Linked DNA regions of Homo sapiens: region 1 is linked to region 2. Evidence: fine-mapped expression QTL. Tissue or cell type: whole blood. Region 2 holds a variant in brackets; the other region holds the start of a gene. All regions are shown on one strand. Distances are from middle to middle.

Region 1 (8,107 bases), 410 kb after region 2:
ACTTAATAAAGTTTTTTAAACTTTAAAAAAAAAAAACAGGGATATGTAAGATGCTGATATTTACAGGACCTGAGTGAGAAGAATATGGAACCTCTCTTTTCTACGTTTCCAAGTTTTCTGTAAAGATAACATTAATTCAAAAGAAAAAGTTTTTTTTGTTGTTGTTTCTTTTTTTGTGAGACAGATTTTCGCTCTTGTTGCCCAGGCTGGAGTGCAATGGCGCGATCTCTGCTCACTGCAACCTCCACCTCCCAGGTACAAGCAATTCTCCTGTCTCAGCCTCCCAAGTAGCTCGGATTACAGGCACGCGCCACCATGCCCGGCTGTTTTTCTTTTGTATTTAGTACAGATGGGGTTTCACCAAGTTAGTCAGGCTGGTCATGAACTCCTGACCTCAGGTGACCCACCCACCTCGGCCTCTCCTGCGCCTGGCCAAGAAAATGTTTTTAAAAAGAAGAGCGATCAGGATGTGATGACGTCGCTGTAAGGTATGAGAGAGAGAGTCAAGATTGACTCAAAGGTTCTTTCCTGAACAATTGTGGTGTCAGGATATCCATTGGTTTTCATCCACAGTTACTGGCACATGACTCCCATAGCCCTTGCTACAGTCCTTTGTTATATTGTTGTGTTGGGCCTCATGGGCAGGCCCCTGACCTCCTCCTGGCTTTCTGATTGTGGGTCTTTTTTTTTTTTATTTTATTTTTAGATGGAGTCTCATTCTGTTGCCCAGGCTGGAGTGCAGTGGTGCGACCTTGGCTCACTGTAACTTCTTCGCATCCCGGGTTCAAGCGGTTCTCCTGCCTCAGCTTCCCAAGTAGCTGGGACTATAAGTGTGTGCCACCACGCCCAGCTAATTTTTGTATTTTTAGTAAATATGGTGTTTCATCATGTTGGCCAGGATGGTCTCGATCTCCTGACCTTGTGATCCGCCCACCTCGGCCTCCCAAAGTGCTGGGATTACAGGAGTGAGCCACCGCGCCCTGCCGTCGATTGCAGGTCTTAAGACTCTCCCATGAGAGGGTCTCACCCTATTCCCTGGGAGAAGGAATGCTGATATCATGAAGCTTTCATAAAACCCCAAGAGGACAGGGTTCAGTGAACTTCTGGGTAGGTGAACAGTGGAGGTTCCTGGAGGGTGGTGCCCAGGGAGGTATGGAAGCTCTGCCCCTTCCTCCAAACCTTGCCCTATGTGTCTCTTCACCTGTGTCCTTTACAATATCCATTATAATAAACCAGTGGGCCAGGCATGGTGGCTCACGCCTGTAATCCCAGCACTTTGGGAGGCCAAAGCAGGCAGATCACCTGCGGTCAGGAGTTCGAGACCAGCTTGGCCAACAGGACGAAACCCTGTCTCTACTAAAAATATAAAAATCTAGCCAGGTGTGGTGGCGCATGCCTGTAGTGCCAGCTTCTTGGGAGGCTGAGGCATGACAATCACTTGAACCTGGTAGGCGGAGGTTGCAGTGAGCTGGGATCGCACCACTGCACTCTAGCCTGGGCGACAGAGCAACACTCCGTCTCAAAAATAAATAAATAAAAATAAACCAGTGAACATAAGCGTTTCTCTGAGTTCTGTGAGCCACTCACAGGTAGCAAATTAATCGAAACCAAACAGGGGGTCAGGGGGTCATGGGAACCCCAACTTGAAGCTGATCTGTCAGAAGTTCTGCAGAGGCCCGGCCTTGCAACTGATGTATGTGAGGAGTCTTGGGGACTGAGTCCTCAACTTGTGGGATCTGACACTCTCTCCAGGTAGTGACAGAACTGAATTAGAGGATGCCCAGCTGGTGTCTGCTGCTCAGTGTGTGGAGAAAACCCCACACACATTTAGTCATAGGTCTTCTGTGTTGACTGTTGTGCGGTGTGAGAGTGGAGAGTTTTCTCTACACGACAATAAAATTGGAATGTCTGGAGGTAGGATGCAGGCACTGGTGTTTTTAATTTTTAAGTAGTCAAAGTGGAGAACTCCTAGTCTTCCCACTTCTCTCTGATGAAGAACCACTACATTAACTCATTTAAATTCGGTATGCTCAACTGGGCACGGTGCCTCATGCCTGCAATCTCAGTACTTTGGGGGGCCAAAGTGGGAGGATCATTTTAGCCCAGGAGTTCAAGACCAGCCTGGGCAACATAGACCCCATCTCTACAAAAAATTAGTAAGTTAGCCAGGTGTGGGGGTGCATCTGTAATGCAGCTATTTGGGAGGCTGAGGTGGGAGGATCACTTGAGCCCAGGAGATCAAGGCTGCAGTGAGCTGTGATCACACCACCACACTCCAGCCTGGGTAACAGACTGAGATCCTGTCTCAAGAAATAAAATAACAAATAAATTCAGTACACTCCTGTGCAATGGGTAATTTTTACATTTCTATTTTGCAAATGAAACTGAGATCACAGATGTTACATGACTGGGTGATCCACAGTCAAACAGCTAGTAAGTGGCATGATTCACATCTTCTGACTCCAAATTCATTCTCCAGCCAGTGAGTGGGAGCCCGTGCAGAGCATCAGGAGCACTGAAGAGAAGACATTCTTCACAATGGCAGCCCCCATGGCTCTGAGCACCCCTGGGAATCCAGGGTTATAAACTGGAGTCATCGGGGTCTTGGCTGCGCATCCCACAGGGACCACCTTTGCACGGTGTGTCCTGCCATTGTGCCCCACACTGGTTGGGACAGGTCATGGGCATAGCAAAAGGTATCTGGGCACATTCAGCAGGTCAGAGAAACCTCCCAGCCTAGAACACACTATGAGCGTCTCTGAACCACTCCCTGTGTTTGCCTTTTGCTCTGCATGGGGTTTAGCACTTGCAGGCACTTGGAAATTTCACTCGCCCTTGGAAACTCCGTTCCCCCATAGCCTGTCTTTCATCCTGCTTCCTTCTCACCCCATTTTGCCTCTGATCCTCACATCCTCTAAAGTGGAGTTCCTACAAAGTATATGCACCTTTCTCATGCTACAGTGTACTGTAGCTCATTTTGTAATTCTGATATAACTCTCTGACATTTTTGTATATTTATGTTTTTATTTTTATTTTTTGGAGACAGAGTCTTGCTCTGTCGCCCAAGCTGGAGTCTAGTGGCAAGATCTCAGCTCACTGCAACCTCCGACTCCTGGGTTCATGCAATTCTTGTGCCTCAGCCTCACGAGTAGCTGGGACTACAGGCGCGCGTTAACCACAACTGGCTAATTTTTTTGTGTTTCAGTAGACACTGGGTTTCACCATGTTGGCCACGCTGGTCTCGAACTCCTGTCCTCAGGCAATCTGCCCACAGTGGCCTCCCAAACTACTGGGATTACAGGCATGAGTCACCGTGCCTGGCTGTATTTACTTTTTTTTTTCTTTTTTTGAAATGGAGTCTCACTCTGTCGCCCAAGCTGGAGTGCAGTGGCTTGATAACCACAACCTCCGCCTCCCAGATTCAAGCGATTCTCCTGTCTCAGCCTCCTGAGTAGCTGGGATTACAGGCATATGCCATCACGCCCGGCTAATTTTGTATTTTTAGTAGAGACGGGGTTTCTCCATGTTGGTCAGGCTGGTCTTGAACTCCCGACCTCAGGTGATCCGCCTGCCTCAGCCCCCCAAAGTGCTGGGATGACAGGCATGAGCCACTATGCCCGGCCGGGTATTTACGTTTTTAAATTGTTTTCTGTGTAAACTCTATAAGGGCCAGGGATTTTTTGCACCGCTGTTGGCAGCCCCTAGGACAATGCCTGGCCCTAGTAGGTGTTCGATAAATATATACAGGTTGAATATCCCTTAACCGAGATGCTTGGCACCAGAAGCATTTAGGATTTCAGATTTTGGAATATTTGCATTATACCAATTGAACACCCCTAATCTGAAAATCCAAAATTAGAAATGCTCCAATGAGGCCAGGTGCGGTGGCTCATGCCAGTAATCCCAGCACTATGGGAGGCCAAGGTGGGAGGATCACTTGAGGCCAGAAATTCCAGACCAGCCTGGGCAACATGGTGAAGCCTCCTCTCTTAAAAAAATACAGGCCGGGCGCGGTGGCTCACGCCTGTAATCCCAGCACTTTGGGAGGCCGAGGCGGTGGATCCATCCCTTGAGCCTAGGAGTTCGAGACCAGCCTGGGCAACACAGTGAGACTCTGTGCTAAAAATACAAAAATTAGCGGACATGGTGGCAGATGCCTGCAGTCCCAGCTACTGGGGGTTGGGACGCTGAGGCGGGAGGATCGCCATAGCCGGGAAAGTCGAGGCTGTAGTGAGCCATGACCGCGCCACTGCATCCCAGGCTGGGCAGCAGAAGTGACAGCCTTTCTCAAAAGAAAAGAAAGTTAAAAGAAGAAAAAAGAAGTGCTCCAATGTGCATTTCCTTTGAGCATCAGGTCAGCGCTCAAAAACTTTCAGATTTTGAAGCATTTCGGATTTCAGATGTTTGGATTAGGGATGCTCAACCCGTATTGATTTAATATGCGGTGGAAACGTGACGACCTAGGTTTTAAGTCGCGGTTTCCTCAGTGGTGGGTTTGGGGTATTACCCCTGCCTGGCCGGCCTCCGGGCTTGTTTCCAGAAGATGCTACCCCGAGAGCTGCGAACCGCCAAGCTCCGCAGCGCGCAGGGCTCCGACAGGGACCAGCGAGGTCAGCTCCAAGGGTCACCCCAGGCTCCAAACTGGCCAGAGCCGCCCTGAGATTTGCGGAGGCCGCCTTGCCCCCACCCCGCCCCGCAATCCCGGACCCGACCCGCCCCCTCTCCCGTTCGCTCGCCCCGCCCCCTGTTCGCCCACTGCGCCGGGACACCGAGGGGGCGGTGCCTCGAGGCCGGGAGGAGTGTTGCGTCGCGGCCTCCAGACACAAAGAGCGGCCGGCGGTACGGGGGTGGTGCCGCGCTCCTGGCCCCGCGCGGGCGGACGGCGGAGGCGCCTCCCAGGTGAGCCGGCCCGGGCGTCCGGCGGGACATTCAGGCGGCTGGTGGGGTCGAGAGTCCGGGGCCGCCCCTGCGTCGCGACCCGCGCCTTAGTCACCAGACCCGGCTCCGGGAGCGCGGCCTCGGGTGCTCCTCGCGGTGCGGGGCGCAGACTCGGCGCATCTGCTGTGGTGCCTGCTCTTCCGGTCGCCCTCGAGGGCGGGGCGGGGGTCACGCCCTAAAATACAGCGCCCGCTGGGCCGAACGCTTGAAAACCCGGTTTCCCGACGGCGGCGGCGCGGGCGCCGTGCGAACGAGGGCCCGGGTCCAGCACAGCCCCAAGGCTCGGCCTGAGGCGGGCGGCCTTGGCCGGGGCCCCCCGTGGTAATGAGCTACGCGGTGCCCGCCGCCTGCCCAGCGCGGGCCGTTTCTCCTGACGCCGCCGGCGTCTGGTCGAGGCCCAGGATTCCCTCCTGCCAGTGTGGCTGCGGCCCCCCACGGAGCGGGACCCGCGTTCGTGGCGCTTGGGACGGTTGATTGAAAGGGTGTAGAAGTCTGTTGCGAATTTTATCTGTTGTACTCGTTTTGCAGATTCGCCCCTTTCCTCCCGCCTGTGCGCGCAGTCACACACACCATGTGGGAGTCTCTGATCGCGTTGGGTTCATAATCATCGATCGTGCCTGGGTACTGATGCCCCATTGTTAGGAGCTCTGTGTGGGGCTGTATGTTTGCACAGGACTCACGTGAGGAAGGGTGGCCACGTTTCTTTCTGCTCTGTGAGACTTAGGCCAAGCCCTGGAACTAGGGAGGAGGTTCAGGAAGAGACCCATGAAGCTGGCGGGGCCTTGGAGAAGGGCAAGTGATTTTCAAGGTCAGTAGTAAGAGGGGTCATGAGTAATGGTAAGTTTCTTAGCGGCCTTTGCTGTGACTTCTAGGTTTTTCACACTGGACTTAAAATACTTTTAAAAGCAGAGTTTTTGTTCTTCTTGTTGTTGTTCTTGTTGTTGTTGCTGTTTTTGAAACGAAGTTTCACTCTTGTTGCCCAGGCTGGAGTGCAATGGCGCCATCTCGGCTCACTGCAACCTCTGCCTCCCGGATTCAAGCGATTCTCCTGCCTCAGCCTCCCGAGTAGCTGGGATTACACGCCCAGCTAATTTTTTGTGTTTTTAGTGGAGATGGGGGTTTCACCATGTTGGCCAGGCTGGTCTCGAACTTCTGACCTTCAGGTGATCCAGCTGCCTCGGCCTCCCAAAGTTCTGGGATTACAGGCGTGAGCCACTGCACCCGGCCAAGTTTTTGTTTTGTTTTGTTTTTGTTTTTTAATTTTATTTTACTTTAAGTTCTGGGATACATGTGCAGAACGTTCTGGTTTGTTACATGGGTATACATGTGCCATGATGGTTTGCTGCACCTATCAACCCGTCATCTAGATTTTAAGCCCCACATACATTAGGTATTTGTCCTAATGCTCTCCCTCCTCTTGCCCCCCACCCGCCCCGACAGGTCCCGATGTGTGAGGTGTGTGATGTTCCCCTCCCTGTGTCCATGTGTTCTCATTGTCAACTCCCACTTATGAGTGAGAACATGCGGTGTTTGGTTTTCTGTTCTTGTGTTAGTTTGCTGAGAATGATGGCTTCCCACTTTATGCATGTCCCTGCAAAGGACATGAACTCATTCTTTTTTATGGCTACGTAGTATTCCATGGTGTATCTGTACCACATTTTCTTTATTCAGTCTATCCGTGATGGGCATTTGGGTTGGTTCCAAGTCTTTGCTATTGTAAATAGTGCTGCAATAAACATACACGTTTATGTGTCTTTATAGTAGAATGATTTATAGTCCTTTGGGTATATACCCAGTAATGGGATCACCGGGTCAAATGTTATTTCTGGTTCTAGATCCTTGAGGAATCGCCACACTGTCTTCCACAATGGTTGAACTAATTTACACTCCCACCAACAGTGTAAAAGCGTTCCTATTCCTCCACAGCCTCTCCAGCATCTGTTGTTTCCTTGCTTTTTAATAATTACCATTCTAACTGATGTGAGATGGTATCTCATTGTGGTTTTGATTTGCATTTCTCTAATGACCAGTGATGATGAGCTTTTTTTTTAATATATGTTGTTGGCTGCATAAATGTCTTCTTTTGAGAAGTGTCTGTTCATTTCCTTTGGCCACTTTTTGATGGGGTTGTTTTTTTCTTGTAAATTTGTTTAAGTTCCTTCTATATTCTGGATATTAGACCTTTGTCAGAAGGGTAGATTGCAAAAATTTTACCCCGTTCTGTAGGTTGCCTGTTCACTCTGAAGAGTTTCTTTTGCTGTGGAGAAGCTCTTAGGTTAGATCCCATTTGTCAGTTTTGGCTTTTGTTGCCATTGCTTTTGGTGTTTAGTCATGAAGACTTTGCCCATGCCTATGTCCTGAATAGTATTGCCTAGGTTTTCTTTTAGGTTTTTTATGGTTTTGGGTTTTACATTTAAGTCTTTAATCCATCTTGAGTTAATTTTTGCATAAGGTGTAAGGAAGGAGTCCAGTTTCTGTTTACTGCATATGGCTAGCCAGTTTTCCCAGCACAATTTATTAAATAGGAAATCCTTTCCCCATTGCTTGTTTTTGTCAGGTTTGTCGAAGATCAGATAGTTGTAGAAAGCAGAGTTTGTTTTTTTTTTAAGTAGTTAAAACTCATCTGTTAAACAGAACACTGAATCAGCAGCCTAGCAGTTTTATGAACTGTGTGCAAGAATGCTTGTATATTAAAAGGAAAATGTTCAGGTGTTAGAGAAGCAGTCTACTTTCATGCTTGTCCCTTTTGTTTGACTTATACATCATCCATTAGTGGTTTAAATGATGACAGATTGAATTGATCTGTATTGGCAAATAAAAGTGGGATGTGTGTTTATGTAAAGTTCAGGTGCAATAAAAATTAGAGGATAACTCTTTTTTGTAGAATGAGAAAATAGCAAGCCTTCTCCAAGGAACTTGGACTTCAGATTTTTTCTTTTTAATGTAGAGCCGGGAGTCTTGCCCAGGGTGGTCTCCAACTCCTGGGCTGAAGTGATCCACCTGCCTCAGCCTCCCAAAATGCTGGGATTACAGGTATGAGCCACCACACCTGACCTCAGATAACATTTAACTCCATCAAATTGGAAAGAAAGCACTTTATAGAGGAATAGTTAGGACTTAAGCAAAAAGTTTTGTTTTTTGTTTGTTTGTTTGTTTGTTTTTGATATGG
Region 2 (8,107 bases):
TTGCTTGCTTGTTTGCTTTCGTGCTTCCTTTCTCTGTCTTTTTCTCTCTTTCTTCCTTTTTTCTTTGTTTCTTTCATCTTTCTTTTTTTCTTTCTTTCTTTATCTTTATTTATTTATTTATTTATTGAGATGGAATCTCACTCTGTCGCCCAGGTGGGAGTGAAGTAATGCAATTTCGGCTCCCTGTAACTTTCATCTCCCAGGTTCAAGTGATTCTCATGCCTCCACCTCCCAAGTAGCTTGGAATACAAGCGTCCACCACGCCCAGATAATTTTTGTGTTTTTTGTAGTGATGGGGTTTCACTATGTTGGTCAGGGTAGTCTTGAACTCCTGACCTCAAATGATCCACCCGGTTCAGTCTCCCAAAGTGCTGGAATTACATGCGTGAGCCACCACACCTGAGCTGTATATGCCATTGTATGATTGCAAATAATTATATGAATCTTGGAGAACATCATGGAAAGATGTTCATCATCTTGTTAACTGGTTATTTCAAGAGTGGAGCTGGAAGGGGAATACTGCCTTTCCTGTGTATTTATTTGTAATGTTTCATTTTCATTATGAACATGTATTATTTTAATATGTTTAAATATTAATAAACACAGGCAAAAATATGTAATTTTAATTCAAGCTGAAATCGTCAAGGCAATCATACATAACAGATGGAGCAAATAAAACATTTAAAATCCCTGAGTGAAAAGGAGGGGAGGCTGGGCATGGTGGCTCACGCCTATAATCCCAGCACTTTGGGAGGCCGAAACAGGAAGATCACTTGGGGTCAGAAGTTTGAGACTGCCTTGGCCAACTGAGACCCCTGGACTCGATTGGAATTGGTCCCACAAACTTTTTTTTTTGAGGGAGTCTCACACTGTCACCCAGGGTGGAGTGCAATGGGGCAATCTCGGCTCACTACAACCTCTGCTCCTGGGTTCAAGTGATTCTCCTGCCTCAGCCTCCCTAGTAGCTCGGACTTCAGGTGTCCGCCACAACACCTGGCTAATTTTTTTCTATTTTTAGTAGGGACAGGGTTTCACAATGTTGGTCAGGCTGGTCTCAAACTCCTGACTTCAGGTGATCCACCAGCCTCTCAAAGTGCTAGGATTACAGGTGGGAGCCATCACACCCCACCAATCCCACAAATTTAGGCATTATGATAATCGGAGCCACCATGCCCCACCAATTACACATATTTAGGCATTATGATATATTGTTACTTTTAGAATCACTTGGTTTTTATATTGTGTTTTTTCCCTTCCATTTGTTTGTTTATTTATTTATTTATTTATTGAGACAGAGACTCGCTGTGTCACCCAGCCTGGAGTGCAGTGGCGTGATCTTGGCTCACTGCAACCTCCACCTCCCGGCACTCCATCTCCACCACACTGGCAACTAACATGCCTCCTCAGGCCCTCTCAGGGTCTAGAGAGGGCGTCTGGAACAGACTGGGAAACTCCAGTAGGCAAAGTAAGGTGCCAGAAATAAAGACACCACCTGAAACATTCTCCATGTTCCCTCCACCCACTCCTCTCCCACCACTCTTCCATCTGGCTCCAACTCTGCCCTCTCCACAAGAGCCTCAGATTGAAATGTTGCAAGGAAGACAAAGATTCTCAAAGTCACAGGCTTGGGAATCTGAGCTATAAAGAAAAATGAGCCTCTGCTCCCCCAACTCCCCCATACTCCCCTGGGCACTGCTGCCCTACATGCACCCCCTCCTCCATAATTTGAACTGTCCTCCCAGAAGCTGGAGGGAGACTGCCCGCCTGTCAGGAAAGAAAGGACCAGCATGCGGCAAATGCCTGGGCTACATAGGAGCAGACGGCGAGATTAGCGCAGGGATTTAAGAAACAAGTGGCTCTCAGACCAAAGAAGACTTGCCCGAGATGGCACACTAAGCATTCATAGGGGTGTGCGCTGGACAGGAGCTTGCCAGTTACCCAAAGAATTGTCTGAGAAAGGCTCTGATCTGGCCCGAAAGGCCCTTGGTTCCCACGGCAACTCCTCAGCGTCTGGCAGTAATAGGCTTCTGTGCCCAGACTTTCTGGGTCTGGAAGTCCCCCTCTGCCAGCCTCTTGCAGCCCAGAGGCACCTCCCATTGGCGCCTGATGGGTTAAGGAAGCTGTTCTTCTAGCTGTGACAGATCAAGCCTGAGGACCTCTCGTGTGTCTTTCTTAGTTGTTTCTTCCCGCCCACCTGCCACTCAAAGCCACAACCCACTTGCATGCCCCCGAGTGGACCCCTTAAAGCGACCATCTAGATCTGAATTGCGCTGAGGGAATGGTCAGCTTCATTCCCATTAGATGGCTTGGCCCAAAGGAACTAGCGATCGCCCAGACAAAAATGTCTTCCTAAAAGCTGGATGTGTCTGTGGTCTCTAAGAGGCAAAACCAAACCCAAAAGGAAAAGCCAACCCACCCACCCCCACCATAAAACAAAAACCAAAACCGCCGACAACCCATCTTTCACATGAGGAGTCCGTGAGAAGGGCCTCTCCAGCCAGGATCAGGTAAGGGAATCTGTGCCCTTGGCCGGACCCAGAACACCCAGTGGCAAGGAACTGACTGTCACACTCTGACCCCATAGAATTTCCACCATTGTCACACAGGTCAGGATGTGTCAGCCTGAGAGATGACACCACAAATCTGGCCTTCACAGATTGATTCCACACTCTCTCACTGATTCCACACACATCCCGCCACTGACACCAGATTCCCTCATCACTGACCCTACATACCCACAAGAATTGATTCCATGGATCTCATCACTATCCAAAAGACCACCCATCACTAATCTACAGACCCTCATCTCTCACCCCAGGGACCCCACAGATTCCCCATCCCTGATTCCAGGATCTATAGAACCTCATCTCTTACCCCCACAGACCTATTTATAAGAGGATACGTTCATGGAATACCATGTTGACCATTTTACACATCCATTGCGTGTGTGTGTGTGTGTGCTGATTAATGGACTTAGGTAAACTTTAGCATTTTGGTAGCCAATGCAGTTTTTCAATGCCTTTTCTTTTTCTTTCTTTTTCTTGTACAACTTTAAAGACCTTACTCCAGTAAGTGTGATTTGCAATTTATCAATGCCTATCTCTTATTGGGTCCTTGTCATGCATATTTGTTATTAATCATAATTCACAATTCTTACAACTCAGAGACACCAGAGTCTCACATAAGAAGAATGGCTGTGGGTTTTTATTATTGTTATTTTTTTGGTTTCTGTAGATTATAAAAGTCATTCATTTGTATCAAGTCAGTAAGTGTATATTTTGTTTTCTTAAAAAATGTAATTAAAAATATTTTTGCTGGAATGCAGTGGTATAATCATGGCCACTGCAGCCTCAACCTCCTGGGCTCCAGTGATCCTCCCACCTCAGCCTACCTACTGGCTGAGACCACAGGCATGCAACAATATACCCACCTAATTAAACATTTTTTTTTTTTTTTTGTAGAGATGGGCTTCTCACTATGTTGCAGAGATTGGACTTGAATTCCTGGGCTCAACTGATCCTCCAACCTTGGCCTCCCAAAATGTTGCAGTTAGAGGTGTGAGCCACTGCACTCAGCTGATAAGATCTTAAAAAGAGTAAAATACTTTGGGAAGTAATGTAAAATTTCCACTGAGACGATGCATCAGAAATTAAAGTAGAATAAAATGGTCCTAGGGCATCTGAAACAATGGGAACTAAGTCTTGAGCCAGGTGTGGTGGCTCATGCCTGCAATCCCAGCACTTTGGGAGGCCAAGATGGTGGACTCATTTGAGGTCAGAAGTTCGAGACCAGCCTAGCCAACACGGTGAACCACAATCCCTACTGGGAATACAAAAATTAGCTGGGAGGTTGCAGTGAGCTGAAATCGTGCCACTGCACTCCAGCCTGGGCAACAGAAGGAGACTGTCTCAAAACATAAAATAAATAAAATAAAAATAAAGAAGAAGAAGAAACAATATCTTGATTTCATCATCAAGTGTAAAAATGTGGACTCTGGAGGCACACAGGTACTCTTTTTCTCTGAAGTTTTATTAAGAAATATTAACATATCACAGAAGCCACCCATTTAAAGTGTAAAATTCAATGATTTCAGTATATTTGCACAGTTGTGCAAACATCATCACAATAAATTTTAGATCATTTTCATTACCCCAAAGTAAACCCCATATCCCTCCATTTCCCCCAACTCCCCTAACCTTGAGCCACCACTAATCTACTTTCTGTCTCTATGCATTCATGTATTTTGGACATTTTATTTAAATGGAATTACATAACGTGATATTTCATGACTGGCTTCTTCCACTTAGCATAATATTTTCAAGGTTCATTTAATCCTGCATGTGCAGAGGGGGCACTTTGCATAAAGATAAACCTGGTGGGTGGTGCTTACTGATTTATTTTGAAACTTCGCTCCAAAATTGTGTGTGTGTGTGTGTGTGTGTGTGTGTGTGTGTGTGT[GTA/A]TTTTTTTTTTTTTTTTTGAGACAGAGTCTGGCTGTGTTGCCAGGCTGGAGGGCAGTGGTGCGATCTCAGCTCACTGCAACCTCTGCCATCCTGGTTCAAATGATTATCCTGCCTCAGCCTCCTGAGGAGTTGGGATTACAGGTATGTGCCACCACACCTGGCTACTTCTGTATTTTTAGTAGAAACAGTGCTCTTCCATGTTGGTCAGGCTGTTCCTGACCACCACCATGCCCAGCTAATTTTTTTTTTTAAGACAGGGTCTCACTCTGTTATCCAGGCTGGAGTGCAGTGGCACAATGTCGGCTCACTGCAGCCTCGACCTCCAGGGCTCAAATGATACTCCCACTTCAGCCGCCCAAGTAGCTGTGACCACAAACATGTGCCACCACGCCTGACTAATTTTTGTATTTTTAAAATACAAAAAAACCTGTTAAGACAGGGTTTCAGCATGTTGTCCAGGCTGGTCTCAAACTCCAGAGCTCAAGTGATCCACCTACCTTGGCCTCCCAAAGTGCTGGGATTACAGGTGTGAGCCACTGCACTTGGCCTAATTTTTTTTTTTTCTGAAGAGATGAGCTCTTGCTGTGTTGCCCAGACTGGTCTCAAACTCCTGGCTCAAGCAATCCTCCTGCCTTGGCCTTCCAAAATGCTGGGATTACAGGTGTGAGCCACCACACCGGCCCATTCTTTCTTTTATACTGAGTATTCAGAAATTTTTTTAAATGTGTTTTCCACTTACAGCATTTCTCAGGTTGGACTAGCCATCTTTCAAGTGTTCAGCAGCCTTGTTGGACAGCACAGCTCTGGAGGGTGATTTTATGTACATTCCCACTGCTCTCTCTGCCTCCTTGATTCCCATCTACCCCAAACCCCTGCAGTGTGTGACTATCGTGTCTCTCTCTCCTCTCTTTCTGTTTCTTGTATTCCTTTAATATAGAGAATTATTTCCAATTCCTTAACATCGTGCCCTGATTTTTTTCTGTCTTATATTCAAGGGTCACAGTTTTTCTCTCACCATCATTACAGTCTTTTCCCATAACATGTGACATGTCTTTTTGTCTTGGTTGAGTATTTATTTACAATACATGAATGGTTGTTTTCTTTGATATATTAGTGACTTACATACTTTTTTTTTTTTTTCTGAGATGGAGTCTCACTCTGTCACCCAGGCTGGAGTGCAGTGGTGCAATCTAAGCTCACTACAACCTCTGCCTTCCAGGTTCAAGTGATTATCCTGCCTCAGCCTCCTGAGAAGCTGGGATTACAGATGTGCACCACCACGCCTGGCTAATTTTTGTTCTTTTAGTAGAAACAGAGTGTTGCCATTTTGGCTAGGCTGGTCTTGAGCTCCTAACATCAGGAGATCCACCAGCCTCAGCCTCCCAAAGTGCTAGGATTATAGGTGTGAGTCACCTCACTTGTCCAGTCTGCACTATTCCTTGGAGTCAGACAATTTGAGGCAAACAATGTCTTTCTCATTCAGATGTGACCTTCAGGATCTAATTTTTGTAATTTTAGTATAGACAAGGTTTCTTTTCTTTCTTTCTTTTTTTTTTTTTTGTTGTTGTTTTTGAGACAGAGTTTCACTCTTGTCACCCAGGCTGGAGTGCAGTGGCATGATCTCAGCTCACTGCAACCTCTGCATCCTGGGTTCAAGCGATTCTCCTGCCTCAGCTTCCTGGGTAGCTGGGATTACAGGCGCCTGCCACCACACCTGGCTAATTTTTTGTATTTTTAGTAGAAACAGGGTTTTGCCATGTTGGGCAGACTGGTCTCAAATTCCTGACCTTAGGTGATCTGCCAACCTCAGCCTCCCAAAGTGTGGGGTTACAGGCATGATCCAGCACCTGGCCTCTCCTGGCTAATTCTTTGTATTTTTGAAGAGATGAGGTTTCACCATGTTGGCCAGGATGGTTTTGATCTCCTGATCTCCTGATCCACTGGCCTCAGGCTCCCAAAGAGCTGGGATTGGAGGTGTGAGCCACTAAGCCCAGCCTCAATGTAGCTTTTTATCAAAGTATTTATGTAGGAAAAATCAATCAAAGAGCACAAGCATTTCAATACTTAGGTTACTTAAGATGAAATTTGTGACCAGAAGAGTGCCAGACACACATGAAACGTTTTGTGCATGAAGGAACCACCAATTAGATAAACAAATTTGAAGGAACTAAGTAACAAATAATTTTCTGTTGTTTGTTTTGGTATGTTATTTTGGTAATGTGATTAATCACGTATGTCGACGGCATTGGGAAGAATTTTCAGATTCTCTGATATGCATGACATCTTAATCAAACAATATAAAGCAAGGCTATCTTAGGAAATTAGGTATCACTGCCAAGGACCTTTACATGAGAAGATAAATTAAAATTACTATTAAATTTGTAACACTCAGATGGGCTGGTAGGCAAGTTGTGTCATTTTTACTCGGCATTTTTTCTTTTCCTTGATTCAATAAAACAAACCTAAATGCCAGCTATCTGCAGAACCCTCACTGGACTATGTTTAATGATATGTGAAACACAGCCTGCACACTCACAGATCCTTGCCACGTCCTGTTCTGATCCTCTCAAAACCTGTGTTACCCTGTGGCTAGATTTCTTAAGGAGATGAAAGAGAGAGACAAATGAGAACAATCTTTTCTGATGTCGCTCTACACAGCTCCTGCAGGTAGACAATGAGCTCTCCGGTGAGGCTTTTATCCTTGGCTCGGGGGTGGAGGCCTTAATCCTAGAAAACAGGTCTCTCAGGGTGGGGAGGTGATTTAAATCCTTATGAGATAGACGCAGCTCCCCATCTCATCCAGACCTTCACAAACTCAAACTGGAACCACCGGAAAAACGACTGACAACCGGCCACAAGACCCAGGGAGAGACGCGGGGAGAGGGTGACCAGAAGAAAGGCTGACGTACAAGATACCGCCCTCTGGCACACAGGGCACATGTGTCCCAACACACACACGCACACACAGACGGTCACAGAGCGAAAGACCGAGAAAGGAGAGAGAGAAATAAGAGAGAGACTTACGCACACACACAAACGCAAAAAGACATAGGGCAGTGGCACGGTAACACTCACCCCCAGGCAGCCCCTGAAGCTGCCGTGTTCTGCTCTCCGCAACTACGACCCATCAGTGAGAGAGCAGCTCATGGACACACAAGCAAAACTCTCCTTTTTTGAAAAGACTCACTGGCACACGGTCCATGCAGGCCTGAGGCTGGGACCCCGCCCTGCTTCTTCGGCCCTCTGCCCGCGGTTTCTTCCTCTTGGATGACCCTCCGTGAATTCCGGCCTCCAGAGACCATCCTGTTGATGCCCTGGCCAGGACTGGTTTTAGCCTCGACTCTGATTAATCCCTCTAATCCCAGGTACTCGCGAGGCCGAGGCAAGAGAATCATTTGAACCCAGGCGGCAGAGTTTGCAGTGAGCTGAGATCCCACCACTGCACTCCAGACTGGGTGACAGAGTGAGACTCCGACTATTAAAAAATAATAATAAAATAAATGACGGCAGAGCGGCGGCTGCAGGGACTGGGGTGGTGGCTGGTGAAGTGAAGATTGGGAGAGGGGCCTCATCGACCCTCCGCAAATCCTGGCTTGAGGCTGGCATCTCGCGCTGCCTCCCTTGCGATCTGCCTGAGGTTTCTTGC

Evidence for each region. PIP is the estimated chance that this variant, and not a neighbour inherited with it, causes the effect.
Region 1: NINL starts here. The variant in region 2 is fine-mapped to the expression of NINL in whole blood (INTERVAL, PIP 0.95).

What each region holds. Positions count from the first base shown.
Region 1 is chr20:25,582,247-25,590,353 of GRCh38, reverse strand. It overlaps NINL (ninein like), which reads left to right and starts at 4,823. Exons shown (of 24, transcript NM_025176.6): 1 at 4,823-4,899. RefSeq lists a silencer at 4,759-4,888.
Region 2 is chr20:25,991,535-25,999,641 of GRCh38, reverse strand. No RefSeq gene overlaps it. Among named protein-coding and RNA genes, the nearest start is that of LINC01733, 40 kb to the right of the region's middle. RefSeq lists a silencer at 85-269. The variant GTA/A (reference allele first, on the strand shown) is at 4,459.